4 linked regions of the Homo sapiens genome follow. The protein of the gene in region 1 purifies or fractionates together with the protein of each later gene. This does not show direct contact. Each region holds a gene or a part of one and is shown on either strand. Other genes may lie near its edges. The genes, in order: RRP1, IKBIP, TSR1 and RIOX2.

What was found.
Region 2: the proteins of RRP1 (region 1) and IKBIP purify together in Homo sapiens (co-immunoprecipitation; one large-scale study listed by IntAct). This does not show direct contact.
Region 3: the proteins of RRP1 (region 1) and TSR1 purify together in Homo sapiens (co-immunoprecipitation; one large-scale study listed by IntAct). This does not show direct contact.
Region 4: the proteins of RRP1 (region 1) and RIOX2 purify together in Homo sapiens (affinity purification with mass spectrometry, with the first as the bait; one large-scale study listed by BioGRID). This does not show direct contact.

What each region holds. Positions count from the first base shown.
Region 1 is NC_000021.9:43,790,803-43,798,394, reverse strand, and holds part of RRP1 (ribosomal RNA processing protein 1 homolog A), read right to left. Parts: intron 7,046-7,592; coding exon 6,963-7,045; intron 5,724-6,962; coding exon 5,666-5,723; intron 5,077-5,665; coding exon 4,991-5,076; intron 3,207-4,990; coding exon 3,145-3,206; intron 974-3,144; coding exon 844-973; intron 765-843; coding exon 700-764; intron 489-699; coding exon 295-488; intron 1-294. UniProt on the Homo sapiens protein: Plays a critical role in the generation of 28S rRNA.
Region 2 is NC_000012.12:98,628,635-98,636,226, forward strand, and holds part of IKBIP (inhibitor of nuclear factor kappa-B kinase-interacting protein), read right to left. Parts: intron 5,780-7,592; coding exon 5,662-5,779; intron 1-5,661. UniProt on the Homo sapiens protein: Target of p53/TP53 with pro-apoptotic function.
Region 3 is NC_000017.11:2,320,042-2,326,414, forward strand, and holds the end of TSR1 (pre-rRNA-processing protein TSR1 homolog), read right to left. Parts: intron 5,380-6,373; coding exon 5,263-5,379; intron 5,224-5,262; exon of another isoform or gene 4,789-5,223; coding exon 4,648-4,788; exon of another isoform or gene 4,538-4,647; coding exon 4,463-4,537; exon of another isoform or gene 4,334-4,462; coding exon 4,155-4,333; 3' UTR 3,833-4,154; coding exon of another isoform or gene 3,614-3,832; 3' UTR 3,305-3,613; coding exon of another isoform or gene 3,095-3,304; 3' UTR 2,355-3,094; downstream 1-2,354. Other genes in the region: SRR (serine racemase), read left to right, coding at 1,265-1,384, 1,501-1,575, 3,095-3,304, 3,614-3,832. UniProt on the Homo sapiens protein: Required during maturation of the 40S ribosomal subunit in the nucleolus.
Region 4 is NC_000003.12:97,963,374-97,970,965, forward strand, and holds part of RIOX2 (ribosomal oxygenase 2), read right to left. Parts: intron 4,260-7,592; 5' UTR 4,221-4,259; coding exon 3,789-4,220; intron 1-3,788. UniProt on the Homo sapiens protein: Oxygenase that can act as both a histone lysine demethylase and a ribosomal histidine hydroxylase. Is involved in the demethylation of trimethylated 'Lys-9' on histone H3 (H3K9me3), leading to an increase in ribosomal RNA expression.

The sequences.
Region 1 (7,592 bases):
CACCAAGGCAGGAACGAGTCTAGGGGGCCAACTGAGCCAGAGGCATGCGTTAGACCGAGGAGCCCAGGGGTCCGGAGAGGGCGTGGAGCACATCAGAGGCTGGGGGATGAGGGGAAACGACGTGTGCTTGGTGCCCACAGAAGTCACTCTGGCTTCTATGCTGAGGATGGACTGTGGAGAGGGGCAGAGACAAGGGGACCAGGTAGGAGGTGGCAGGAGCAACCCAGCAGGAGATCGCACTGGCTCAGCCCAGGACAGGCCCCGAGGAGAAGCCAGGCGCAGTGTGACCCCCACCTGCGGGCGGCTTCTCAGACCTCTTCTGGGACAGCGCGTCTCCACGCTCACCACCCTCAGAGGACTCATCACTGTCCGACGCCACCTCCTCATCCTGTGTGTCCAGTTCATTCAGGAGGTCTTCAATGGCAAGCGGGGCCTGCTCCACAATCGTCTCAAAGATGCCTCGAGTGATGTTGTTCAAAACCAAGGAACTGAGGGGCAGAGCAGAGGCCGGTGAGCAGGCCCGTTATGCTGGATTCCCAAGCGGAAGCCGCCGACTCCCCTGCAACCTCTCCCCACCCACACGGCCAGCGGCCACTCTGAGACAGATTCATCCCTCGAGGGAGCAGCACCCCCACAACAGCAGCCCCATGGAAGAACTCAGTGAAGGAGTCGGGCCCGATCAGGCCACCCACCACTTACTCCTTGGTCCGGGCAGCAATTCTGCAGAAGGGGTCGATGAACTTCAGGTTCTGGTCTGCCGTAAGCTACGGGGAAAGCCAGCGGGAGCTCAGTTCCTCCTCCACAAACGCCCAGCTCCACCGCCCCGTCGGAGCCCAGCCTCACCTCCTCGGCGCCCACTTTGGTCAGCTCCTCCAGGAAGATCTCGATGAAGTGGCTCTTCACACCGTTGGGGGCCTGGCTGCTGGGGTGCAGGATCTCAGTCATCAGCAGCTCTAGCAGCTCCTCGATCTGTCTGAGGAAAGAAAAAGCAAACATGACAGGCAGCCTCGATGAGCCCCAAGACAGCCGTGCCCCCCACTCTCCCATGGTTACACGCTCTGATGGGAACCTAAGTGCGGGCAGGCGCCACTGTCTGCAAACATGCCAGCCTTAAAGTCCACGCAGATGATATCAACGATCCTAGGTCTCCTCCAGCGCAAGGCAGTCTTGCAGTTAGGGAGTTATGTGACCAGCACCACCACCAGAACGTATGGCCTGAGTGTGCATGTCAGCTACAAAATGCAGCACGTGTAAACATTCAGACAGGCCTTCCCTCTGTCCTCAAGATTGCTAGCAGAGAGAAAGGCTTGGCTGAGACGAGACGCCCTGCCTGGTGTTCCTCTCCACTGCCTCCACTGGGTACCGCTGGGGAAGACACGTCAGGACAGCACAGGCAGAGAAAGGAAGGTGGAGGCCCAGAAAGGGGCCGAGGACCATGAGCCACCTGCTGGCTTCCTGGGCCCTGCCGCACGACGCATTCCAACTGTGACGTCCACCAGAGCTCTCCCTGGCAGGCGGGTTTGATGGCATCACAGGCCCTGGATCTGAAGACTAGACAGCCCCAGAGAATAATGTGTAGCACCTACATGCATCTGGACCTCCTGGGGTGCTTAATAACGCAGCTGCCTAACTCAGATCTGTAAACTGTGTGATCCTTAGGAAGCTCCGTAGCAAGGCTGGAGAATCACTCGTGATGGAAAGGAAAAGTGATGCTCTCTAAGGCTCAGGAAAAACGAGACAGAGGCAAGAACAGGTGCTGAGACCAAGAGGAAGACACACAGATGCAAGGGACCGACTTCCCAGGCCAGTGGCAATGGCGTGGATATTAATGACAGCCTGGTTATGCCTGCAGGAGATCCAAGAGGGCGGGAAGAGCGGACCCCACTGTCAGCACTGGGACCGCAGCAGGCATTGGGGGAAGGCACCGAGGTCTTCCACATGATTCCTGTGCTGAATTCTCAGTTACAGGGAGAAAAGTACTCTTGTAATAATATGCCAAAAAAAGTTAACACAAGTAAAATCATCCCTTTAACATTTAATTCAGCTTAAGCCATGAGACCCCTATGGGGTAATCCACAATGCTAAGGCCCAGAATGAATGAGACTCCTGGCATCAGAGTCCTGCCAGGGAATAGAAGAATGAAAATCCCTCCAAACCAGAGGCACCGCTGCCCTAAATGCAAAATCACCCATGCAACTCAAACCTAGAGAAACTCAGCAGCCACAGTTCAATTCCTGCTGATTCTTTAAAAAAAAAAAACAAAAAACCAGAATCTCACTCTATCACCTAGGCTAGAGTGCAGTGGCTCAGTCACAGATCACTGCAGCCTCAAACTCCTGGGCTCAAGAGATCCCCTTAACCCACCATAACCAGCCTGCTAATTCTTTTCTATGCATTTATCTAATTTTTGTACTTTTAGTAGAGACACGGTTTCACCATGGTGGCCAGGATGGTCTCGATCTCTTGACCTTGTGATCTGCCCGCCTCGGCCTCCCAAAGTGCTGGGATTACAGATGTGAGCCACCGCGCCCAGCCAATTTACATATTTTTAGAATTAGGAGCAATTAACATTGCTTACAACTTGGGAGGCCTAGGCAGGCAGATTGTTTGAGCCCAAGAGTTTGAGACAAGCCTGGGCAACAGGACAGAACTCGTCTCTACCAAAAAAAGATACAAAAATTACGTGGGCCTGGTGGTGCACATCTGCAGTCCCAGCCAGTTGGGCGGCTGAGGCAGGAGGATCACTTGAGCCCGGGAGGTCAAGGCTGTAGTTGAGCCAAGATCACGCCACTGCACTCCAGCCTAGGCAACAGTGACACCTATTTCAAAAAAACAAAAAGCATTGCTAATGAAGCGGAACATGCCGTGTTTTTATAAGAAGCTCCTCGGCTGGACACCCTTTCATTAAAAAACTCCCTTCTGACTCCCAGTGAGAACTGGCCTCCAAGCCTGAGGATAAATGGCATCATTTCCACAAACACACAAACTGATTTTTACTTTAAAAACTATCTTCTCTCTAAGCACGATTGGGGGCATGCGTTAATATAAAGGCTGACATCTCCTTATGGCAAAGAATCAAATGACAAACACGACTGCGGTCCCCGAGAACAGCGTCCCCCCAGAGCAGGCCCGCCGCGCACCCACCTTTCTTCCCAGCCTTGCATCTTCAGAACCTTCAAGGACTCGTTCAGGACCATCCGCATGAGCTTTGACACAGAAGGAGGTTGGCATTAGCAGAAGCCCAGCCCTACTTCGCCAGACCACCCATCCCCATGTACCACCATCCGCTGCAGGATAAAGTCATGGCCGTGGTGACCTCTGCCGGCCCCAGCACACAGCCGGCCCCCAGAGCTGCTGACAGACAGACGCTGGAGGACACACCACCAAGCCCTCAGAACCCTGGGCTGAGAACATGCCCTATCCCCGGCTCCAAGGCCCCAGCTGGCAGGAAGCAGGTGCATGGGGGGTCGGGGGTAATAGGGGACAGTCCTACGACTCCAGTCCATAAACCGGGGCTGAAACGGAACAGTCCGATTCATAAGGGAGAACCAGGAAAGAGGCACGGCTACCCCCACGGGCGGTGGAGCCCTCCGCAAAACCAGGTCTGAAACACGGCTGGTCCTCACCAAACCCCCCGCAACGGGCAGAATGTAGCTCACTTCCTCTGCGGTCCACTACACAGCGAAGGCCCTCCCGCCAAGCCTCACCCGTGAATCAACAATGCCATTTCCCTCCATGGGGCTCAACACCCTTCTGCAGTTGTCCCCCCTTTAGGCTACTGACCCAGCATGCCCACACGCCCAGAGTGGGGTCTGAGCTGCAGTCAGTAGCAGCAGAGGACACGCGGACCCCCAGGAGCCCCGATGACAGAGCACAGCCCAGCAGCCCGGACACTGTTCTTGCAGACACAGGAGGCCTATCCCCCACAACACCCTGCGGTGCCACCGAGGCTAGCCCTGACGCAAGGCTGTGCTGCTGGACTCAGCCACACAAGGGGCACCCAGAAACGAGCCATGGAAAGCAGCAGAACGCATCCATCCAGGGACCCAGCAGCCACATCTCAGCAAAACAGTAGGGTGGCCTCCCTGCAGAGCCCCATTGTCCCTAAGAGTCTGCACTCTGTCTGAGTGCATGGCCGGGCCCCTGGCCTGCCCTGGAGCCTCCTTCCTTCTTGAGCTCCAGGCCTTTCCCGCCCTGGTCTCCACTTCTAGAATCACTGGTATATATGCTGTCTGCACAATCCTGGCCCGAATCTGAGCTGGACACTGAAGCCAGAGTGGCAGATCAACATCTGTCCTCAGTGAGACCCGGACATGGCCCCTTTCAGTGTCCCCATTGGGTGACCGACTCCTACACAGTGACAATGTCCCTGTATCTCAGGCCTGCTCTAAGGTTACAATGACCACCACCTTAGTAACGAGACCTCATGGTTCAACAAGAGGGAAGGAGGGAAGGAGAGAAGCAGGTCCGGGCAGCAACACGCTGCACCTCTAAACCCCAGTGTTCCCCTGTATTCTCAGGGCAAATCAGTGCCCTGAACGGGGATACAATGAGGGAGGAGGGAAAGGAAGTCCCACACTGTGACCATCCATCCCAGCCTCGCAGGCTAAGCACTCCAGGGCTCATGCTAGGGCGTGACCGCAGCTCCTCTGCTGCGCCTCCAGACTCACTCTGCCTCTTTGACAAGGTAACAACGGTGTCACCATCGACTCTCACCAGGAGAGCAATCGTCACTTTCCTTCTCTGAACCAAAAGTTTGTGTGGTGTTTTAAGGGTCGAATTCCTTGCCCATTCAATGACCCTCAGAGACTGGACAAAGCTGCAGAGCCCTGGTCAGGGACCGCCCAGAGTCTCGGCTCCACCTCCCACCCCTGGCTTCAGGGTCGCACTGCCTCAGGTTGCCTCCCTGCCCAGGTGCCGCCTGTCTCGCTTGGCCAGGCACTGAGACCCGCGCTGCCCCCGCCCGCCGGCACCCTGGTGGCTGCCTCACCATGTAGAATTTATCCAGGCGCAGCCTGTCAATGCCCGTCCACTCGCGATTCATGGTCTGCCAGAAGGCCTGAAGGAACAGGTGCTCTGGAGAAGGAATAAGCCAGAAGAGAACCACTGAGGAGCACGAAGCCACTCTGGGGAGGGAGGTGAGAACATGGAGGAACCCGTTCTTTACATAGCTATAGATAAAAAATGCTGATGCCCAGGCCCTACCCCCAGAACTGGATCTTGCTGGACCAGGATCTGGACATGAGGATTTTTAGAGGCTCCTCAAGTGAGTCCTACAGACAGGCAGGGTAAGAACTTCTCAACTCCGGTCACCAGAGAACAGAGGAGTCAGAAAAATCAACTGCAGGAACCTCAGGACCATCAGGCGGAATTCAGTCCAATCTCTTGGTGACATTATCCTGGCTTTTCACTTTATTTTTAAAGTGTAAGATATTAGCCCATTAGGCTCGAAATGAGGGTTTTGGGTAAATGAGCTAATCCATGTTGAATACTTACACCAGCACTGCACACATGCTAAGCACCCACAGACACCAGCTGGCGCTCTCTTGCCCTTAGGCATTCCTTACTCTGGATTTGAGAACACAAACCTCCTGGGTCTGGTGGCTCTGATGCTCAGAGGTTCTGACATCTACAAATGCACCCAACTACAGCAGAGCATACTCACGCGCCTCCGTGGTCTGAAAAGCATGAACGAGCTGGGAAATAGTCCTTCCTAATTCTTCCTGTGTAGGAAACAACAAAAACGCCCTCAGCCCCTGAAGCACCAGGCTCTCACAATGACACACACGCAACCACCCACTCACCCACTCACTCACTCACTCATCACAGAGAGTCGGCTTCCAGGGGGTCTCAGCTCAGTGCACTGGAGGTTTCACCCCTGCTCCAAAAGACCCCTCTACAGCCAGGGTCAACAGGCTCTCACACAACCACGGGAGGCCCCTCTAGACAGCTGGGGTCAACAGCCTCTCACACAACCACAGCAGGCACTGCCCTCTTGACAGAGGCTGTGCCCTAAGCCACAGAGTCACGGTTAAAGAGGGACGTGGGAGAGCGGAAGGGAGCCTTGGGACTCACAGCCCCCTAACCATCAGGAGGAAGAGGGCTGCGAGACCCCATAGATCACTGGCTATCTGCCTACATCACCGTGCCAGCCATCGCCCAGAATACTTGCTAAGGGACATTTCACAGCCTCCCCTTGATAATTCAGTGGGCATGGAATATGGCCCAGGAACCTGAACTTAACTAAGTACCCTCACCACCCAGGAGATTTTGAAGGAGAGCACAAAATTCACAATTTGAGAAACAATGTTTGGAAAAGGCTAGCAGGAGACGTCCTTGTCTCAGGAGACTTGAATTCCGCCCCGTGGTTTCCACTATTTCAGCACTTGTTTGCAACCCAGGACAAACACAAAACCCAGTTTTCACCCATGCCAGTGCTGCTGCAGTGCACGGCTCAGTCAATCACATCAACACCTCAGCAAGTGTAAGACTCACCTAACAAAGGCCCAGGCCCACCAGCCGTGCCGAACCAAGCGTCAAGGCTATACGACCTCCCCACGGTCTCTGGCCATATTAAAACTGGGTTGACCAGGCCGGGCGCGGTGGCTCATGCCTGTAATCCCAGCACTTTGGGAGGCCGAGATGGGAGGATCACTTGAGCTCAGGAGTTCGAGACCAGCCTGACCAACATGATGAAACTCTGTCTCTACTAAAAATACAAAAAATTAGCCAGGCATGGTGGCAGGTACCTGTACTCCCAGCTACTTGGGAGGCTGAGGCAGGAAAATTGCTTGAAACCAGAAGGCTGAGGTTGCAGTAAGCCGAGATTGAGCCACTGCACTCCAGCCTGGGCAACAAGAGCGAAACTCCGACTTAAAAAAAAAAGAAAAACTGGGTTGACCAGATGCCCATCCATCCTCCCCCGCTGCTTCTGTACCTGCTCTGCTGCTCCCCCCACTCACCTGGAGGAGTGGCTTGTCCTGCATCCACATGCAATAAAACAGTCCTTTCCACACCTTCAGCAGCTCGTCGTGCGTAAAACCACCTGCATCAAAACAGCAACGGTTGGACCAAATGAATCCCACACCTTCGAGTGCCAGAAAGGAAGCCACAGAAACGTGACTGCCTGAATGAGACCAAAGTCCCACTTACGGTAAAGGCAACTGGGGGGCAGAATCTGGCCCTCCCCTTCAAACAATCCTTCTAACCCAGAACCTGCCGCGCCTGTGGCTATGCGGCTACTCCAGGTAACTGCTACTTCACGCACACAGTAAAACCGACTGAGATCTACAAGGTATCAGGCACCATACTCCATTTTGGAAATTCAAAATTGCGAACCTTGACGGTTTCCTAAGCTGGACAGTGGCCACAAGGTTAATCTGTTGGTGATAATTCATCCAGCATTATACTGAGGGCTTCTGCACTCTCCTGTAATATATCTCAAATACTAAAAGAAGAAAGTGAACTCAGGCATTCAGACTACGAGAGAAACAGAAATTACTGAGGCCAGGTGCGGTGGCTCACGCCTGTACTCCCAGCACTTTGGAATTGAGTGCTGAGGCAGGATCACTTGAGGCCAGGAGTTCAAGACC
Region 2 (7,592 bases), on another chromosome or scaffold:
AATTAAAAAATTTTGAGGGTTCACTCTGTGCCAGCCTTGTGTGAGACAGTGGAGACAAATACAGCATAGTCCTTGATTTCACAATTTGATTGGGAGACAGTGTTTAGATCTTCCACATCATATATTCTAGAGTCCCAACAAGATCTACTGAGTACCCTGTGTGAGGTAGTTCCATTATCAGGTACTAGGGAAATGGAGATAAAAGATGCAGTGTATGCTCTAAAGAGGAGTAAAGGAGATAAACTAGCAACCAAAAAAATCACAGTAGATTATAAGTAGCGTCACAAAAGAATTAGCACAGGGGGCAATGGATGCTTTGAGGAGAGATAAAAAGTTAGGAGGGCAATGCGAAAAGGCCTGGAAGTGGCTCCAAAATTGGAATCATTAACAGACTGATTGATGAATTAGCAGGGTGAAGATGTGAAAGCTTCTAAATTTCAAAGGAGAAGAGACCATGTCTTATGCCTCTGTGTAATCCCTACATCTCAGAGTACAAAGAATATGTTTGTTGATGCTTAGGAAGAATGACCCTAAGCCTTCTAGGTCCACCCCAATCAAGACTTAAAGAGTATGCAACAAGAATGACTAACACCACTCTGAAATGTTGTTTAAAATTTATTTTAAGGGTTGGGCATGGTGGCTTACGCCTTAATCCCAACATGTTGGGATGCCAAGGCAGAAGGACTGCTTGAGCCTAGGAGTTTGAGACCAGCCTGGGCACAAAGCAAGACCCTGTCTCTATCAAACAAACAAACAAACAAACAAACAAACAAAATTAGTTGGGCATGGTGGTGTGCGCCTGTAGTCCCAGCTACTTGGGAGGCTGAGGTGGGAGGATTCCTTGAGCCCAAGAGTTCAGGGTTGCAGTGAGCTATGATCATGCCACTGCATTCCATCCTTGGTGACCGGGCAAGACCCTGTCTCAAACATACATACATACACACACACACATTTAAAGAAAACAAACAAAAAAATCCAAAGAAATAAAAACCTCTTTTAAATGTACACATACAGCCATAATACAAGTTCCTTTTAAAATCAATTATGAGAAATACTAACCATTAACATGGTTAGGTTTAGTTGTTTTATTAGCAGTATTTTGAAGAGGCAAGCTTATCCTCACCTAAGGTAATGTCCTGTTTAGGAGGTTCATCAGAGCCTCACTATAATCTGAAAGCAGTATACCCCAAGTAAGTGCAAGATGTTATAGATTTAATCTGCAAATATTTAGTGACTAGTATGCCACAGTAGCTAGCATTTATGGGCCACCAACATATTCTAATCGTTTTTCATTTTTATTTACTAAAAAAATTTTTTTTGTAGAGATGGGGTCTCACCATGTTGCCTGGGCTGGTCTCAAACTGCCAGGCTCAAGTGATGCTCCCAACTTAGCTTCCCAAAGTGCTGAGATTACAGGCATAAGCCACCACACCGGGTCTCATTTTTTCTTAAAGAAAGAGCTAGTAGGGCCAGGTGCGGTGGCTCACACCTGTAATCCCAGCACTTTGGGAGGCTGAGGCGGGTGGACCACCTGAGGTCGGGAGATTGAGACCATCCTGGCTAACACAGTGAAACCCCATGTCTACTAAAAATACAAAAAATTAGCCGGGTATGTTGGCACATGCCTGTAATCCCAGCTACTTGGGAGGCTGAGGCAGGAGAATTGCTTGAACCCAGGAGGCAGAGGTTGCAGTGACCAGATCTCCCCACTGCACTCCAGCCTGGGCAACAAGAGCCTGGGCAAAAAAAAAAAAAAAAAAAAAAAAAAAAAAAAAAAAAGAGCTAGTACTTTATTAGTGCTTGATTGTTTTCAAAGAATTTGTATATAAAGTAAGTCCTCACTTAACGTCATTGGTAGGTTCTTGGAAACTGACTTTAAGTGGAACTATTCAGAGCAGCTCCTCCAACAACGTTGTTTCGATGTCCTTTCATTACAACGTAGATGAGAAAAAAATTGGTTTCATTATACACTTCACTTAAAATCGTAGTTTCCAGGAACCTATTGATGACCAGGAACCTATTGATGACGTTGAGGACTTACTGTATATCTCATCTGATCTTTATAAAAATCTTATTATTTCTCACTTAATAAATGATGAAATAGAGATGAAGATAAGTTATAGTGATTTGTCTAAGGTCACACAGTTGGGATGGGTGTCCATGTCTAGCTGTTTTCCCCTCCATCTGGGTTATGCTGCCCTTTAGGGCCACCTTTGTGAAAAGGGACCTCTTATTAAATTACTCCCAGGGCAGAATGGGAGAAAAAGCTACGAAAAGACTGAATATTTCTTTTTTTTCTTTTCATTTTTTTTTTTGAGACGGAGTTTCGCTCTTGTTGCCCAGGCTGGAGTGCAATGGCATGATCTCGGCTCACCACAACCTCCACCTCCCAGGTTCAAGTAATTCTCCTACCTCAGCCTCCCGAGTAGCTGGGATTACAGGCATGCACCATCATGCCCAGGTAATTTTTTGTACTTTTAGTAGAGATGGGGTTTTTCCATGTTGGTCAGGCTGGTCCTGAACTTCTGACCTCAGGTGATCCACCTGCCTTGGCCTCCCAAAGTGCTGGGATTACAGGTGTGAGCCACCACGCCTGGCCAAGACTGAATATTTTTTGGATTCTATAATGATATTTTAAAAATCTGCTTCAAAAGCTTTTTTTTTGAGATGGAGTCTCACTTTGTTGCCCAGGCTGGAGTGCAGTGGTGCAATCTCGGCTCACTGTGACCTCTGCCTCCCCGGTTTAAGCGATTCTCCTGCCTCAGCCTCCTGAGTAGCTGGGACTACAGACACACGCTACCATGCCCAGCTAATTTTTGTGTTTTTAGTAGAGATGGGGTTTCATCATGTTGGCCAGGCTGGTCTTGAACTCCTGACCTCAGGTGATCCACCCACCTCGGCCCCTCAAAGTGCTGGGATTACAGGTGTGAACCACCGTGCCCAGCCTGGCCAACATGGTGAAACCCCGTCTCTACCAAAAATACAAAAATTAGACGGGTGTGGTGGTACACACCTGTAGTCCCAGCTACTCGGGAGGCTGAGGCAGGAGAATCACTTGAACCCGGGAGGCGGAGGTTGCAGTGAGACAAGATCGAGCCATTGTACTCCAGCCTGGATGAGAAAAGTGAAACTCTGTACCACCCCTGACCTCCCCCACAAAAAAAAAAAGAAAAAAAAAAAGGAGAAATCTTGTTCAAAATAAGTTTTCAATAGCTTTTATTTATATTTATTTATTTATTGAGATGGAGTCTCACTCTGTTGCCCAGGCTGGAGCACAATGGCGTGATCTCAGCTCACTGCAATCTCCACCTCCCAGGTTCAAGTGATTCTCCTGCCTCAGCCTCCCGAGTAGCTGGGATTACAGGCGCCCGCCACCACGCCCAGCTAATTTTTGTATTTTTAGTAGAGATGGGGTTTCACCATGTTGGCCAGGCTGATCTCAAACTCCTGACCTCGTGATCTGCCTGCTTCGGCCTCCCAGTGTGCTGGGATTACAGGCGTGAGCCACCGCGTCCGGCCTTCAATAGCTTTTAATTAAATATGTGAAGTTTTGGCAAGGCACAGTGGCTCACACTTGTAATATCAATTCTTTGGGAGGCAGAGGCAGAAAGGTCATTTGAGGCCAGGAGTTTGATACCAGCCTGGGCAATGTAGCAAGACCCCGTCTCTCCAAAAAATTAAAGAAAAAAAAATTAGCTGGGTGCAGTGGCGTGCCTGTTAGTCCCAGTTACTTGGGAGGCTGAGTTGGGAGGAGTGCTTGAGCCTGGGAGGTTGAGCTGTTATTCCAACACTGCACTCCAGCCTGGATGACAGAGTGAGAGCTGGGATGACAGGGAGAGACTCTATCTGAAAAAAAAAAAAAAAAAAAAAAAAAAAAAATATATATATATATATATATATATATATATATATATGAAGTTTCTTGCCCCTGGGATTTCTTCTAATGGTATGTTAGAGTTCCCCCAACAGCTACAACCAGATTCCAATTTTTTTTTTTTTTTTTTTGGGACAGAGTCTCACTCTGTTGCCCAGGCTGGAGTGCAGTGGTATGATCTCAGCTCACTTCTGAAACCTCTGCCTCCCAGGTTCAAGCAATTCTCATACATCAGCCTCCCAAGTAGCTGGGATTACAGGCATGAACCACCATGCTCAGCTAATATTTTTGTATTTTTAGTAGAGACAGGGTTTCGCCATGTTGGCCAATCTGGTCTCGAACTCCTGACCTCAAGGTGATCCGCCTGCCTTGGCCTCCCAAAGTGCTGGGATTACAGGCATGAGCCACTACGCCTGGCTCAGATTCCAATTTGAGCCCTATGTGAAAATACCAACTCCTTTGCAGCTCCTTCCCCAAATCCCTTACACTCACCATCCATGGAATCCCCTGGCATTTGTGAGGGATACTTAATTTTCCTCCATGGCTTTTCTCTTCTGGAGGATTATATGCTCATCCTGTGCATGGGGCTGCAGGGACTTAGATGCTCCATTTCATCTCTATTTTTACAACATCCTTACCCACCCTGGTGCCAAGCATAGGTCCTTGCTTACCTTGTGACATGAGCAAAGGTTTAGTGAATGAATAAATGAACAAAAAGCCATATTTCCCAATGATAGCTTGGTCCCTGGTACCCAGAATAGGCCTACATGATGCCTTATTGATCACAGCTGACTTTGACTTTCTCCTGAGAGGTGTGGGAGTTACAAAAATGTTTATTTGTCTCACATTTCTAAGAATCACAGTAATAACGCATCTGGTAGAAATCAGCAACTTGAAGGAACACAATATAGACATGGTATTATTTTAATTTTCATTGGAATTCTTATTTGGCTACAGGACAAATAGTTACTTTTAGGCTAGCCGTTCTTTTTTTTTTAATTCTTTTTTTTTTTTTTTTTTTTTTTTGAGACGGATCCTCGCTCTATAGCCCAGGCTACAGTGCAGTGGTGTGATCTTGGCTCACTGCAACCTCCACCTCCCAGGTTCAAGAGATTCTTCTGTCTCAGCCCCCCGAGTAGCTGGGATTACAGGCGTGTGCACCACGCCCAGCTAATTTTTGTATTTTTACTAGAGATGGGGTTTCACCATGTTGGCCAGGCTGGTCTCCTAACTCCTGACCTCAAGTGATTTGCCTGGCTCAGCCTCCCACAGTGCTGGGATTAAAGGCATGAGCCACTACTCCCAGCCTAGGCTAGCCATTCTTAAATGCATGTACATATATCCTTAAAAAGCAAAAAGTAAGGGAAAAAATGGATAGATCTTTTCCCAATAAGTGCTATTCATATTCTAATTTTATGTCCAAAGATCAACCATATTTTCAGATGAGATCGAGCGCATTCAGGGTGGTATGGCTGTAGACATGATCAACCATATTTTCAATGCTCTAGATACCTGACACTTAAGTAGAAAATTAACATCATGCTAATATGAACAAATTGGTCTTTTTCAATACTAGAAATTATCATATTAAAAAATCCTTGCCCCTCAAAATGCAATCTGAGTCAAAATGGCTCAGAGGGAGAATGTCAAGAGGTAGGAAGATCAGTGAGAGTTAAAATAGTGATGGTCTAAAAGGCAGGAAGAAAGAAGTTCTGAGCTGGGATAGAGAAATGATAGTGGGGTAGTAAAATGGGAAAACCGTCCCAGATAAGCCAATTAATGATTACCTTTTCTGAAATTAAACTGATTTTACTTTGAAGTTGTTGGAATTCATTGGTTTCTAGTTTCAGTAACTGGTATTGGTTTTCCACCTTTGCAAATTTTTCTGACTGCTGAAATACAAACCTGGAAAAGAAAAGAAAAATCACTATTCTCCAATTCATATCCATTTAAATCCGAATTTCAAAGGAGAATTATACCCACTTCTGTTAAGAACAACATAAATTCTGGTATGGGTAGCTGTAGGTTTTTTTTTTTTTTTTTTCACACAGGGTCTCACTCTGTCACCCAGGCTGGAATGCAGTGTCACAATCATAGCTCACTGCAGCCTTGAACTCCTGGGCTCAAGTGATCCTCTTACTTCAACCTCCCAAATAGCTAGGACTGTCCATCTCGCTATGTTGCCAAAGGTGGTCTTTAGCCTTTTTTTTTTTTTTTTTGAGATGGAGTCTCACTCTGTCGCCCAGGCTGGAGTGCAGTGGCGCGATCTAGGCTCACTGCAAGCTCCGCCTCCTGGGTTCACGCTATTCTCCTGCCTCAGCCTCCCGAGTAGCTACGACTACAGGCGCCTGCCACCACGCCTGGCTAATTTTTTGTATTTTTAGTAAAGACGGGGTTTCACTGTGTTAGCCAGGATGCTCTCGATCTCCTGACCTTGTGATCCACCTGCCTTGGCCTCCCAAAGTGCTGGGATTACAGGCGTGAGCCACCACGCCCGGTATTTTTTTTTTTTTTTAGATGGAGTTTTGCTCTTGTTGCCCAGGCTGGAGTGCAATGGCACGATCTCGGTTCACTGCAACCTTTGCCTCCTGGGTTCAAGCGATTCTCCTCCTCAGCCTCCCAAGTAGCTGGGATTAAAGGCACCTGCCACCACGCCCCACCAATTTTTTAATATTTTTAGTAGAGATGGGGTTTCACCATGTTGGCTAGGCTGGTTTTGAACTCCTGACCAGTGATCTGCCCGCCTTGGCCTCCCAAAGTGCTAGGATTACAGGCATGAGCCACTGTGCCCAGCCCCAAGGTGGTCTTGAATTCCTGGCCTCAAGTGATCCTCCCCTCAGCCTCCCAAAGCGCTGGGATTACAAGTGTGGGTCAACATGTCCAGCCTAGATGCAGCTTTTATCAGTTTCTTTTGACAGATTTTCATGTGGTAGGTACTGGTTTAACTCATGCAAAGATGAGTAAAGCACTGCCCTTGTTCACAATTCACAGCCCACCAAATAAGATGGTGTGATATCTGTAATAGATGCATGCACAAGAAATATTTTAGAGGAGGACAAAGTGAAAAATTTAGAACAAGATCTTTGATCTCTACTGTTTTTCACAAGGCCATGATTGGGTAATATCTAGAAAATAGGTGTTTTTATGCTGAAATGTAGGCGAAACAAGAGTCGTCTATAAAAAGTATTTTAAAACTGAAATGTAGAAGAGTTGACTGATAAAAAGCAGTGGAGTAGAAGAGAGAAGTGATAGTAATTAGAAGTTGCAAAATAGCAGGAGGTGTGAAAAGAGGTATGAAAATAGAAAAAAGCCATTGCCAAAGTGACAATAGATCACAATCAGTGCAGAGTGTATAAACTGCACAATTGGTTATACTCAGTGATGTGACTCGTATAGGTGTACTTGAGATGTCACTCTAAAATTGGAGTTTATTCTTCATTATGGGTGGAAGCCCAAAAAGCTATCTCAATCTTCAAAACAACAAATCAACATCTGTTTATACAGGATTTGAAATGAGCAAGCATAAAAGAATTGTCTTGGATCCAATACCATTTTGTCTACTTTAACTCAATTCTTTAGGCTCAGAAAAAAACACTTGAAATTCTTTGCATATTGAGTCATCAAAACGCAATGGAGCAGAACCATAAGTACCTGCCTAAACACAGTCCTGAGACAAGTGGTTCAAAAGCTTTGCTACATATTGTAATAACCTGGCAGC
Region 3 (6,373 bases), on another chromosome or scaffold:
TCTCCTGACCTCGTGATCCACCCACCTCGGCCTCCCAAAGTGCTGGGATTACAGGCGTGAGCCACCACGCCTGGCCAGAACTTGTCTCTTTTCAAGTCTAAATCCTCTGTTGGTTTCCCATCTCATACACGGTGGAAACGAGAGTTCTTGCAATCATCTAATCCCTGGATAAACTCAAACATTCCTATCTTTCTGACCTCATCTCTCATCTTTTTTTTTTTTTTTTTTTTTTTTTAGACAGAATCTCCCCGTCTCCCAGGCTGGAGTGCAGCGGCACAATCTCGGCTCACTGCAACCTCCGCCTCCTGGGTTCAAGCGATTCTTCTGCCTCAGCCTCCCGAGTAGCTGGGACTACAGGCGCGTGCCACCATGCCCAGCTAATTTTTGATTCTTTAGTACAGACAGGGTTTCACCATATTGGCCAGGCTGGTCTCGAACTCCTGACCTCGTGATCTGCCCGCCTTGGCCTCCCAAAGTGCTGGGATTACAAGTGTGAGCCACCGTGCCTGGTCCCTCATCTTCTTTTTATTTATTTTGAGACAGGGTCTCACTCTGTCCAACCCAGGCTGGAGTGCGGTAGTTTCTTCTCAGCTCCCTGCAGCCTCCGCTTCCTGGGTTCAAGAGATTCTCATGCCTCAGCCACCAGAGTAGCTGGGATTACAGGCGCGTGCCACCACATCTGGCTAATTTTTGTATTTTTAGTAGAGACGGGGTTTTGCCGTGTTGGCAAGGCTGGTCTTGAACTCCTGACCTGAAGTGATCTGCCCACCTTGGCCTCCCAGAGTGCTGGGATTATAGGTGTCAGCCACTGCACCCAGCCTTGACCTCATCTTCTATTATTTCTCTTGCCCACTCTGTGCCAGCCATACTAACCTTTTTAGCTGTTCCTCAGAAAGGCCAAGCACTCCTACTTTGTAGTCTTTGCACTGTTACCCCCTCTCTGGAATATTCTAGACATCCACAGCACTTGTTCAGATCTTTTAAAATGTCACTTTACTAGAGGCTCTTCTTGGCTACCCTATATGAAATAAATTCCTTCATTTTACTCCATTGCACTTAGACATACCATATATTTACTTCATCCATCTCTACCATACAATATAACGTGCTTGAGGGCAGGGATATTTTATTAACATATATATCTCTAGTACCTGAACAAAGTGTGAAAAAAGTAGATGGTCAATAAAATGCTGAATGACCAAATGGAACTTGTTGGGGACTCTATTAAATACAAATCAATTAAGCTAAATTAATGTACTTTCAGTCCAGAGAAAATGTTGCAAAAAGAGTTACAGAAGAAACAGAAGGCATCATGGTACATCCCAACCAGGAGCCTGCAGTGATAGCTGGACAAGGGACAATTGCCCTGGAAGTGCTGAACCAGGTAAAATAGCTGAGTTCTTCCTGTTTAGCTACTGGTAAAGCTGTTGGGCTATATTCAATTATTTTATATGTATACATTAAATATAAAACTGCTTACAGTTTATATTTTCACTAAAGGTTCCTTTGGTGGATGCACTGGTGGTACCTGTAGGTGGAGGAGGAATGCTTGCTGGAATAGCAATTACAGTTAAGGTGAGCAGCTTCTGGAGGATTCCCTGCTTCAAGCAGAGGATTTACTTTACATCCTAAATGTTCTGTATACACGTGCTCAACATTCTGCACACATTACCATTCCTTCCCCTTATTCCTTTGGGACTTGAGATGAAGGCCCATCTCTGCCTCACTACTCTATTTACTATTATTATTATTTTTTGAGACAGATTCTCGCTGTTGCCCAGGCTGGAGTGCAGTGGCACGATCCTGGCCCACTGCAGCCTCCACCTCCCGGGTTCAAGCGATTCTCCTGTCTCAGCCTCCTGAGTAGCTGGGATTACAGGCATGAGCCACCACACCCCGCTAATTTTTTTGTATTTTTTTTAGTAGAGACAGGGTTTCACCATGTTGGTCAGGCTGGTCTTGAACTCCTGACCTTGCGATCCACCCGCCTTGGCCTCCCAAAGTGTTGGGATTACAGGCGTGAGCCACTGCGCCCGGCCTATTTATTATTTCTAATATTTTTATTTTTTTTAAGAGATGGGGTCTTGCTGTGTTGGCCAGGTTGGTCTGGAACTCCTGGGCTCAAGCAGTCCTTACTTTGGCCTCCCAAAGTGCTAGGATTACAGGTGTGAGCCACCGCACCCAGCCAACTCTCTTCTTAATCCATGACAATTTTACAGCACAAAAGCAGTTACAAGTGACACCATCATAGTCTTTTCCCTGAATTCCATGTCATCAAGCTACTATCCATACCAAGGGGCTACCCTTTTCTCAAATTACCAGGACAATCAGATGTGATCCAGGCAATGGAAGGCTAGTATCAGACATATAATTTATTTATAAAGTGCTTGAAGATATTTTCATTACATCCACAAAAGGGAAGGCTCTTACTTGGGCAGAAATGTATTACTTATTGTGCCTATTTTCTTTTTTTTTTTGAGACGGAGTCTCACTCTGTCACCCAGGCTGGAGTGCAGTGGCACGATCTTGGCTCACTGCAAGCTCCACCTCCCAGGTTCACGCCATTCTCCTGCCTCTGCCTCCCGAGTAGCTGGGACTACAGGTGCCTGCCACCATGCCTGGCTAGTTTTTTTTTGTTTTTTTTTTTTGTATTTTTAGTAGAGACGGGGTTTCACCGTGTTAGCCAGGATGGTCTTGATCTCCCTACCTCGTGATCCGCCCACCTCGGCCTCCCAAAGTGCTGGGATTACAGGCGTGAGCCACTGCGCCCCACCCCATTTTGGTGTGATCTCAGCTCACTGCAACCTACCCCTCCCAAGTTCAAGTGATTCTCCTACCTCAGCCTCTTGAGTAGCTGGGATTACAGGGGTCTGCCACCACGCCTGGCTGATTTTCCTATTTTTAGTTGACACTGCATTTCACCAGGTTGGCCAGGCTGGTCTTGAACTCCTGACCTCAGCTGATCCACCCGCCTCGGGCTCCCAAAGTGTTGGGATTACAGGTGTGAGCCACCACACCAGGCCCATATTTTCTTTTAGACATGCAGGCAATGTTGTGGTTTGTTGTTAAGATGTCTTAATATTCCTCTTCCCAGGCTCTGAAACCTAGTGTGAAGGTATATGCTGCTGAACCCTCAAATGCAGATGACTGCTACCAGTCCAAGCTGAAGGGGAAACTGATGCCCAATCTTTATCCTCCAGAAACCATAGCAGATGGTGTCAAATCCAGCATTGGCTTGAACACCTGGCCTATTATCAGGGACCTTGTGGATGATATCTTCACTGTCACAGAGGATGAAATTAAGGTGAGGCTCCAGCAAGAAAAGAAATAGCAAAGCATGGTGTAACTTCTTAGGCAGAAGAAACTTCCCTTAGGAGTAGCAAGTGACCCACGGGAACCTGACTAGGTAACTTCATGACATGGGAGGGTACCCTAGATGTATTAATGACAACCCTCTTGACAGAAGCAGAGTCAGAATTAAAGAAAAGCTTTGGGAAGCGTGTGTACACAGTGATAAGAAAATTCAAACTGGACACGTATTCTCATCTGAACTTTATAGGTAAACCAACTAGACTCCCCTTTCACTAATTCCTACTCCCTTCCATATCAACAGTGTGCAACCCAGCTGGTGTGGGAGAGGATGAAACTACTCATTGAACCTACAGCTGGTGTTGGAGTGGCTGCTGTGCTGTCTCAACATTTTCAAACTGTTTCCCCAGAAGTAAAGAACATTTGTATTGTGCTCAGTGGTGGAAATGTAGACTTAACCTCCTCCATAACTTGGGTGAAGCAGGCTGAAAGGCCAGCTTCTTATCAGTCTGTTTCTGTTTAATTTACAGAAAAGGAAATGGTGGGAATTCAGTGTCTTTAGATACTGAAGACATTTTGTTTCCTAGTATTGTCAACTCTTAGTTATCAGATTCTTAATGGAGAGTGGCTATTTCATTAAGATTTAATAGTTTTTTTTGGACTAAGTAGTGGAAAAACTTTTATACTTAACTGAGACATTTTGTCAAGGCTAAAAAAAAGTCTTGCAAAATGGGGCAGTGGACTGACAGGCTGACATAGAAAATAAACTTTGCCCAATCACAACTTGTGCCTCCCATCCCTGGAGTACTGACTGGCACCGGTAAGACAGAATCTCTTTGAATCCATTACTCCATGCCCCCTTGAGGCACTGTTGAAGAAATCTCACTTTTCAGCCAGGGTACTGGTTCTGGTACATATGGATCATAAGTCCATTTGGGGAAGACTCGTTTATACAGGTTCATCAGTACTGTGTCTTGAGATTTTAGCTTCCCATCAAAGCTGCATTTCATGTGGCCATGGGTACCTAGAAAGACATCAGAACAAGTCGGTCAAATTAAAAGTAGAAAATTTTAAAGCAATGACTTCCAACCCAACAGTCATTTAGCAACACTGCAGAAATGCAGACATGGTCTCAAATCCCGTGTTTCCTTACCTAAAGGTTCCTTGATATGTCCTCTCCGGCCCCACTTCGTTCTCAGTTCCACTGGTTTAAACCACAGCACATCCTCTTAGAATCAAACACATTAAAGACCAAGATGAAACATTTACCCACAAAATGTAAACCCAACCTTTATACCACAAAGGCAATCAGATCCCATCCTCCTCCTTCATACCCACCTCTGTTGAAGAACATGTAACGTACTACTGCCATCTTAGTAAAAATTTTGAAAGGATGACCACTCAGAACAACTCTCTTGATGACCATTCTGTCTGGATCTACTGACATAAGATGGCCTGTAGCAATGAGGCTGTGCATTCCTAAAGGACAAAAGCAAAGAAGCTATTTAGGAATTTACAGGCCAAAGTCTTCATTTATTGCCCAGTCCATTTAAAGACCCATGCAAGAGCCTGGTTTGTCATCCCTGCCCTAGCCCAATCTGAGGCTAAGATTGGTAAACTGTAAGCCCACACTTAACCTTGTCAATAGGTTCTTGAAAACTTGTACTTCAAGAGAAATGATGTATAACAAAACCATACTTTTTCTCATCAGTTGTTACAAGGAAAGGATGTTGAACAAAAGGCAGTTATTTGAGGACTGGCTATACACTGTTTCACGTAAAAGTTGGAGTTTTCATTGTTCTATTAACAATGTTAAATGAAGACTTACTGTATTTTGAAAACCATCATTACCTTCTCCATACCATTTGGCTCCCAAATTTAAATAAACAAGAGAAAACGGTGTTCATCTATTAAGGACCTGCAGGGTCTGTTCATCTCTGTGGCTCAACTTACCATTGCTTTTTTGCTTGAAAAGCAGCACAGATGCAGGAGGAAAAGTGATTGGCGCATAGACTGTCGCCACCAGGGCCATGTCAGCAGTCAGGAATCTCTGCAATTTATGTTTGTCCGCTGCCATAAGGGTTAAAAAATGAAAAGCAAAACCATTTTGAGAAACCAGAGGTGATAGAGGCCTGTGAAAAGCTGTATTAGTGCAACTCTTAAACCTATGGCAGCTTCTACTTCTCTAAACCACCAGTTCTCAAAAATTTTCGCTGCCTCAATGCACCTAAAAGATACGATCTAGTCCTATCAGTAACTTTTTTTTTTTCTTTTTTTTTGAGTTTGAGTATCGTTCCTGTCACCCAGGCTGGAATGCAATGGTGTGATCTCAGCTGACTGCAACCTCTGCCTCCCGGGTTCAAGCAGTTCTCCTGCCTCAGCCTCCTGAGTAGCTGGGATTACAGGCACATGCCACCACGCCCGGCTAATTTTTGTATTTTTAGTAGAGACCGGGTTTCACCATGTTGGCCAGGCTGGTCTCGAACTCCTCACCTTGTGATCCACCCACCTCAATCTCCCAAAGTGCTGGGATTACAGGCGTGAGCCACCGCGCCAGGCTGTATCAGTAACTTTTTATTTATTTATTTATTTTGAGATGGTGTCTCGCTCTTGTTGCCCAGGCTGGAGTACAATGGTGCCATCTCTGCTCACTGCAACCTCCACCTCCCAGGTTCAAGTGATTCTTCTGCCTCAGGCTCCCGAATAGCTGGAATTGCAGGTGCCTGATCAGTAACTTTTTTATCTGGAGTCAGAATCTTGGAGCCTAGACTGTATTTGATGTTCTACCTTCAAGGTAGCCCTCACCTCCTTTTTAAAATACTAAACTTAAAGGAAAATAAAATATTTTAAGGCAAAGAAAAATTAATCTCACTTAGAGATTGTGATTCTCACAATTGGTGAGAATAAAAATTATCCAAAACACCATTAATACTGCTTTCTTCATATTCCTCCTGCCACTGCTGAGAGTGAGTGAACTAGGACGATGTTCAGAAGCCCCCAAGTTAGTGGGCAACATATCTTCCTGCTCCTACTGTGTAGGAGACAATCATTTCTGCTGCAAGTC
Region 4 (7,592 bases), on another chromosome or scaffold:
TGCTCTGACCTCCCAAAGTGCTGGGATTACAGATGTGAGCCATGGATTTAGCCAAGGACCTCTTTATACAGACCACTGGGCTTCTCTATAGATCTCAGAGTTTCTACTTAACACAGAAAAAATAATTTAATGTCATCTGAATAGCTCCAAAGAGTTAACAGAGCTCCAAAAGGGCCTAATCTATTTCAGGGAAAGGCCAGCAGGACCTGGTTCTGTAATTATTTTTATATAGTAACTGGAACCACTAGAAAACCAGGGCTTCTCTCTCTCTCTTTCTCTCTCTGATGGTATGAGAGGTCTTTCAGGACTGTATAGGTGATTTTATGGTTCCCGACCCAACTATCAGGGTAACTAATGAATATGTCTCTTTTCTTCTTAAAGGTTACTGAAAATGCTATCAATGGCACAATTTTTCTATTTCATCTGGACCTTTAGCCTCTGAATCTGCCAACCGTGGCCTACTAGAAGAGATCTGGAGTCAAACCACCTCGGTTCAAGTTATAATTACAAGCAAGGTGACTTCAGTTGTTTATCTTTAAGATAAAGATATTATCACTCCCACTCAAACACTGTGGCGAACAGCATAAAACAACTTATCACAAATCCTATTTAAATTGCAAAGCAGTATACAAGCGATATTGCTTTACTAACATTGACTCAAGCACAAACAAGGCTCCTGAAACCTGTCTTCTCCTTTACCACAGGATTCGATATCCAGCGAGCCCAAGGAGGACCTAGAACAGTGAAAGGGAGAAGGTGGAAGTCTCTCTCCCGGCTGGCTGTGACCTCCTCTCTCCACTGACCTACCCGTCAGAATCAAAACTCAACGCCATGGCTAAAATAGAAGACCACGTATATGCCTAAAGAAAGGCAAAAGCAAACATATAAAAAGCCCTACTAAATTTCAATACATCTTTCAAAGTATGGTAGGAAAATGCCTTAAATTTGGAGTCAGAAACCCTTATCAGCTTGGAATAGTTATGGAAAGGTCACATCTGTGAACTCCAGTTTTTCCACATACAAAATGGAGTCCACGGCTGGGTGCGGTGGCTCATGCCTGTAATCCCAGCATTTTGGGAGGCCGAGGCAGGTGGATCACAAGATCAGGAGTTCAAGGCCAGCCTGGCCAACATGGTGAAACCCCCATCTCTACTAAAAAAAAAAATACAAAAATTAGCCGGGCATAGTGGCATGCACCTGTAATCCCAGCTACTCAGGAGGTCCAAGGCAGGAGAATTGCTTGAACCCAGGAGGCGGAGGTTGTAGTGAGCCGAGATTGCGTCACTGCACTCCAGCCTGGGTGACAGGGCAAGACTCTGTCTTAAAAAAAAAAAAAAAAAAAAAAAAAGAAGGAAAGAAAAAAAAGAAAATGGAACAAAAGCTGCCCTATTTCAAATGCCTGTTAGAAAGCTCAAAAGTTAAAATATATGAAATTACTTGGTAAACTCTAGCCTGCTAAGCAAAATGCAAATAATTGTGATAATTCCTCTCACCAGGACTTTTAATATATGGATTACTGAAAGCAAGTCCAAACAACTTATTATGGCTCCCTGGTTACCTCCTTACTCGTTTTTAAACTAACTATACTAATAAGCTGTGCACAGTCTGAGACCCAATAAACAAAGGGCTGCATGTTCACTCTAACAGTCTCTCAACCTGGCCAGGGATAAACTCCTTCTAGACTTCCTCTGTTCTGACGTTAATATGCCCATTACTAAAGAAACACACACAATGCCAAACCACCTTATAATATAGCACTTAGAATCCAGACTCTAGTGTAAGACGGTGAGCTCCTATGGCTTATAGGTCTCTCCAGCACGGGTGGTACAAAGAGATTAAAAAAAAAAAAAAAAAAAGGCCCAGCACAGTGGCTCACGCCTGTAATCCCAGCACTTTGGGAAGCTGAGGCGGGTGGATCACCTGAGGGCAGAAGTTCGAGACCAGCCTGGCCAACATGGCGAAACCCTGTCTCTACTAAAAACACAAAAATTAGCCAGGCATGGTGGTATGTGCCTGTAATCCCAGCTACTAGGGGGACTGAGGCAGAAGGATCACTTGAACCCAGGAGGCAGAGGTTGCAGTGAGCCGAGATCGTGCCACTGTACTCCAGCCTGGGCAACAGAGCAAGACTCTGTCTCAAAAAAAAAAAAAAAAGGCACATCCTAGTCTGGCCTGAGGGCTGAATTTGGGCTGAGAAAGCTCATCCTTCCTGCTTTAATAAACTCAGCCAGAGCCTAGTCAACAAGGCAAAAGAAACAGGTTCTTGGACACTGGAATCCCAGACGAGGAATGTGCAGCACTTAAGTGGATGAGCAGAGAAAAGCCCTGCGGGGGATGATTCTAAAGTAGAGAAATGACAGCCACAGTGGATACCACACATATGCCAAATATCATCTCTCTGCTGGTCTATGACCAAAGTACACGTAATCAAATTCACTGAATTCATTTATGTTTAGAGTTCTCAGGTTTCTAAAAACCACTCTTAAAAGTGCTACTTCTAGTCAAGGACTAGCTCAGCGAGAAGCATTTTATTGACGGTGTCCATATTTTCTGAATTCAAATCATAACTTGGTCTGACAAATGATTTGTAAATTCTTTTTGAGTGCCTAGGCCACAAGGTTAGCATTTCAGGGACATTTCAACTTTGTATGATTGCTTGAGATGGAATAGCTGGAATCAGGACTCATCTTGAAAAATCTAAGAGCACTCATACCTCATACAGAGTATGAATAGGTTCAAGATCTTTTAGACAAGAAAGAAAGGGAAGGGCATTCACCAGATGAAGCCCAATGGGATATAACAAGCCACCTCAAGTTAAATCACTGGAAACACTATTGGTAACTGACGACAGAGCCCCAGAAGCCATCAATAAAGCCAGAATCCATTCCTCTCAACATGGAACCTCACAAACCCCTCTCTTTCTCCTCCTATGTTGCCATTTTGATTTAATGAAGGGTCACAGAAGGGGGTTTCTGAATGGGGATAAAAGTTTATCTAAAATTCAGAACAGCCCCTCACCTATTCTGGGCCATCTGTCATGAGATGAGATACAGATCTCAAACCTTGAGGAAAACAAATTAGTTCATACTAAATCTGCATTTTATAAATGTAGAAACCAAGCATAGAGGAGGCAAATTATTTCCCAAATGTCAATCCCTGATATAGAAAAAAATTTAAAAATTTGCCAATCCTCTGCATTTGCAAAGCAAAGATTTCCTCCACCTATGAAGCCTTACCAGGAGCAGTTCCAGGTACCTCAATGTCACCCATTCGGGTGTTATTAAGGGTGAAGTCTCTTTATTGGACTTGCATCTAGCATGTGATCTGGTCATGGCTCTGAAGCCTCCATTTAGATGCAGGCAGTAAAGGGAAGCAACTTCGGGAAAAAATGATCACCTTGATGCTGTCATGCCTTAAATTACAGTGATGTGACAAACCAAATAGAAATGTCTATCATATAGAAAAACATAAACTGGCTCACAGAACATACTCCTGCAGTTGTAGTGCCACTTTAACAACTTTATAAACTTGCAGTATAATTAGTTTTGCAGCTCAATGATACCCAACAATGTCTACCCTGAGTTGCTGGAGTTTCTAACAGTCCAACCAAACATAACACATAATCTTAATCCTAGTTAGAATGCATTTAGACCAAAGAGGTGCTACCCCTTCTCAAACTGGCAAGAGACTAACCATCATCAAACTACGTATTCACCCTTGAGCTGATATGTGGCCAAATGTTAGTACTTTAAAATGTATGAGGATTCTGCAATGGGGAAACTGGTTACCTTAAATCTCTGAGGTTGGTGAAACTGAATCGTTGCCCTTTTCTGATCAAAATCTTTTCTCAGCTGAAGAAAGTGTGCTTTGCCATCTTTATTTAAAACCTTCTTCTTCCCATTGACACACCGGCAGACATTCACATCTCTTCCATAGTACATCCCCCGGCTGCACAGACTCTTCAGATCTGTTAGCTTGAACAGGGACCCATAGTATGTGGCCAGTGCAGGGTCATCTCTCTGAATGAGAAGGGGCTTCTGCTCCCAGAATTCCTTGAAAAAAGTCTCTGTCTTGATGGGCGAGATTAAACTTTCAAAGAGACTACTGGGACTGTCAAAGTTTAAAGCTGAAGGCCCCCCAGCTGCTTCTAACTTCATCTGCTTACAGGGAGCCGGCCCCTCTTCCTTCCCACTCCCTGTAGGCTTTGCTTTCTTTGGCATCGTTCTGTCTTCAAGACAAAGCAGTAAGGAAATGCAAACCTACCAAAAGAACAAAACACACATGGTTAGGTTTACAAGGAGTGCCAGCATTGGTGTTAGTGGATCGCGCGCACACACAACTGAATGACCATTACACCTTCGTGAGAACTCTTCATAGGTCAAAGCTACTTCCCCCAGGATAGGAGACAGCCTTAAGCCAATGCCATTTCTTCTAAGATATGATTCAAGCTCAACCACCACTCAGATGACATATTCATCTAAAGAAGAACGTGTTTTTCTTTTACACAAGCACTATGTCATGGTATTATTTATTAGGCAGTATAATTATCCCAAATAAACCTATTCAACTGTCTCAGCAGTTCCTACTCACAGGTTTAGCCTGTGGCCACTGACACAGCAAAGTCAAATATCTTGGATTTGGCTCCCATCAGCATCAGGGCCCACATCTAATTAGATGTACTCTGAGTTACAAACATTTGACTAGAGAAAAACTAACAGCCGCCCACTGCCAGGTGCTCCTCACCGCAGCACCACCCCAACTGTTGCGCAGGTCAATCAATGCGCCCTGGACCCGCGGTGTCTCCTGGTGGCTGGAGCAGGCCACTGCCTTCTCCTGTCTCCACTAACCACCTGAACCTGCTCACTTCCAACTCTGAGCTTATTCCTGAAAACGGCCACTTTTATCAGAAACTCCCCTTCGTTTAAAGAAATAAAGCCCCTAAAGGCTGAAAAGTGAAGGCTAAAAGTAGTTATATCTAAAGCCTTGAAAAAACTATAACTTTTTAACTGAAGATTTTAAATAATACCAATATCATTAGCCCCTAACACAGCACTTCTCCAACTTTAATGTGCACACAGATCACCTTAGCATCTCAATAAAATGCAGGATATGATCCACTAGCTCCAAGGTGAAGCCTGAGGTTCTGCATTTCTAACAGGCTCCCAGGTGATGCTTCTGCTGCTGACACTGCTGAGTAGTCGAAGCCACACAGCCAAGCCTTGCAAAGCTCCTTCAGAACTGCCTCCAAACCACAACTATTGATACTTAGAGGGTAGGTTTCCCTCATCTGTTTCCAAGAACTGTAATTCAAATTATTTAAATTTCCTGAGACTGCAAAATTCTATCTTAAAGTCCTTTCCCTCTGGGAAGGGACTCCATCACTTTCAACAGATTCTTAAGGAAGTCCCTATCTCCTGACAAGGTTAAGAACCACTGTACTTATAAAAACCAAAATTTCTGAAAGACTTGTTATTTATAAATGGTATAGTTTCCTACTTTGGTGAGTTATCAGAATTGCAAGAATACTGTTTTCTGTTCTTTTGTCATTATAACTAAGCAGTATTTCAGCTACACTGTAGACTAAGTGGAATTAATGTTCTGGCCTGGGAAGTAAGCATCCTGGAACGATGTGTTGCATACTGTGTGACGTGTTGCAACTTATAAAAGAAACTTTAGATTGAAACCCAGATGTAAACTGAACAAATTAAGAAAGGAAATGTCAAAATATAAAACCCTCTAAACAGCTCCATTCCTTCAAAAGACCAGGTGCTTTTGATAAGGAAACACAGGACATGGTGGAAGACTAACACAAACTGATACTACAGGAGAGGGGTAAAGCTTGAAGCTTAGAAAAAAAAAATAAACTTTAGTGTTTAGGATATGTGGTCAGTAAGACACATTTTCTGAAAATGTTTCCTTTAAGTGAAACAGACCAGCTTGAATTCTCCAGGAAAGAATTAAGGCTTCAGGAAGGCACAGCATTGCTAGTACATGGAACTCTCAAGTGATGGAGAAATACAAAGAGATAGAAAAATGGATTCGGGAAGGGGTACTGCTTATGCAGAAGACGTTCCATAGCAGGCCTGACTGCTATCCTTTGAAAGTGCAGCTTGTGGCCGATGTCTGAGAACTTAAGATTTTGGGAGAGTTTCCACCACCATTAACTGATAGGAGTGGCTCACCATGCCTAAAATGTACAATCATTACAGTTTATACCAACACCTGCTTTCCTCTGGGAGTCTGGAAACGTTGGTATGTGCCAGGCAGGGGTGGCCTAAGTGAAAAGCCCCCAGTAAAAGCCCTGGGCACTGAGTCTCTAACAAGCTTCGCAGGTTGGCAACATTTCACAAGTGTTGACACAACTAGTTGCTGGAGCAACTGAGCACAGCCAGTGTGACCGCTCGAAGACCCTTGGAGCCTTGCACTTGGTATCCCCAGAACTTCACCCATGTGCCTCTTCCCTTTGCTGACTGTGCTTGATATCTTTTCCCTGTAATAAATCAGCCGAGTCCTCCTAGCAAATTGCTGAACTAAAGATGGCCTTGGGGACCACAGCACATTGCTCACGTTTAATTTTTAAAAACTTAGATTGGTTTATTAGGTTTGTATTACTAAAGGCACCCTATAGAGTCATTTTATATTCAGCCACACATCTCTTATCTCTCACAATTGGTCAGTTTAAAATTCATTTAAGGGGAGAGAGCAGGAGGAAGATGCAAACGAAAAGCTTTTCTTTAAGCATAATATATGAATACAGTATAAGCACATTCACCAGAAAGTGTGGCTAATCAAAGAATGCAAAACACTTAAGCCAAAATAAAATCACTTAAAAGAATCTTTCCCATCTACAATCACTAACAAACCCCAATACTGTATAACAAATGCTTTCCTTAGAATATAAATTTCACTACCCATACTGCCAAAAGTTACATCATTTGTTTCTCTGTGTTCATGTTGAAATGATTTGAGGCTCAGTTAATTGGAGCCTAAGCTTAGAGGTTTCTGGGCAAATACATTATTTCTCTGATTCTCACACTACTCATACTGTAAGACAACCATTCCTCTTAACAGCTTTCTAGAGCAGAGGGGAGAATAGATGAAGCATCCTACCACATTAAACATACAAAAGTCTTAAGGTACATATCATAATTTCGGAAACAGCAAGAAGTAAAACACATATCTTAGAATCCAATACTATAGTAATTAAAGAAGACAATGCTTTGTCTAGAATAGTACAGCCAACACAACCTTGCCCATAAGCCTTAGAGACCACCCCAATAGGAGTAAATATTTCTGTAAAATCACAGAAAAGTTTTTGAAGAGCAATTGTTTTCCATTTGAGTTGACTATAAGCATTAAATGTAAAAAGACTAAAAGATTTACAGTTCATACTTTGGTGACTACCCCACAGATAAACCCTATAAGAAAATCAATGTTGACAACCATACTATAGGCAACAGACAGACAGTCACTATATTTTAAAGGTACCCTAACCTCCTTTTCTATAATATTTGAGGACATGAAGACGTGAGGAAGCTCTTGAAGGAAAGGATTTGTATATCCCCGGAAACAAGCACGGTGTGGTACATAGG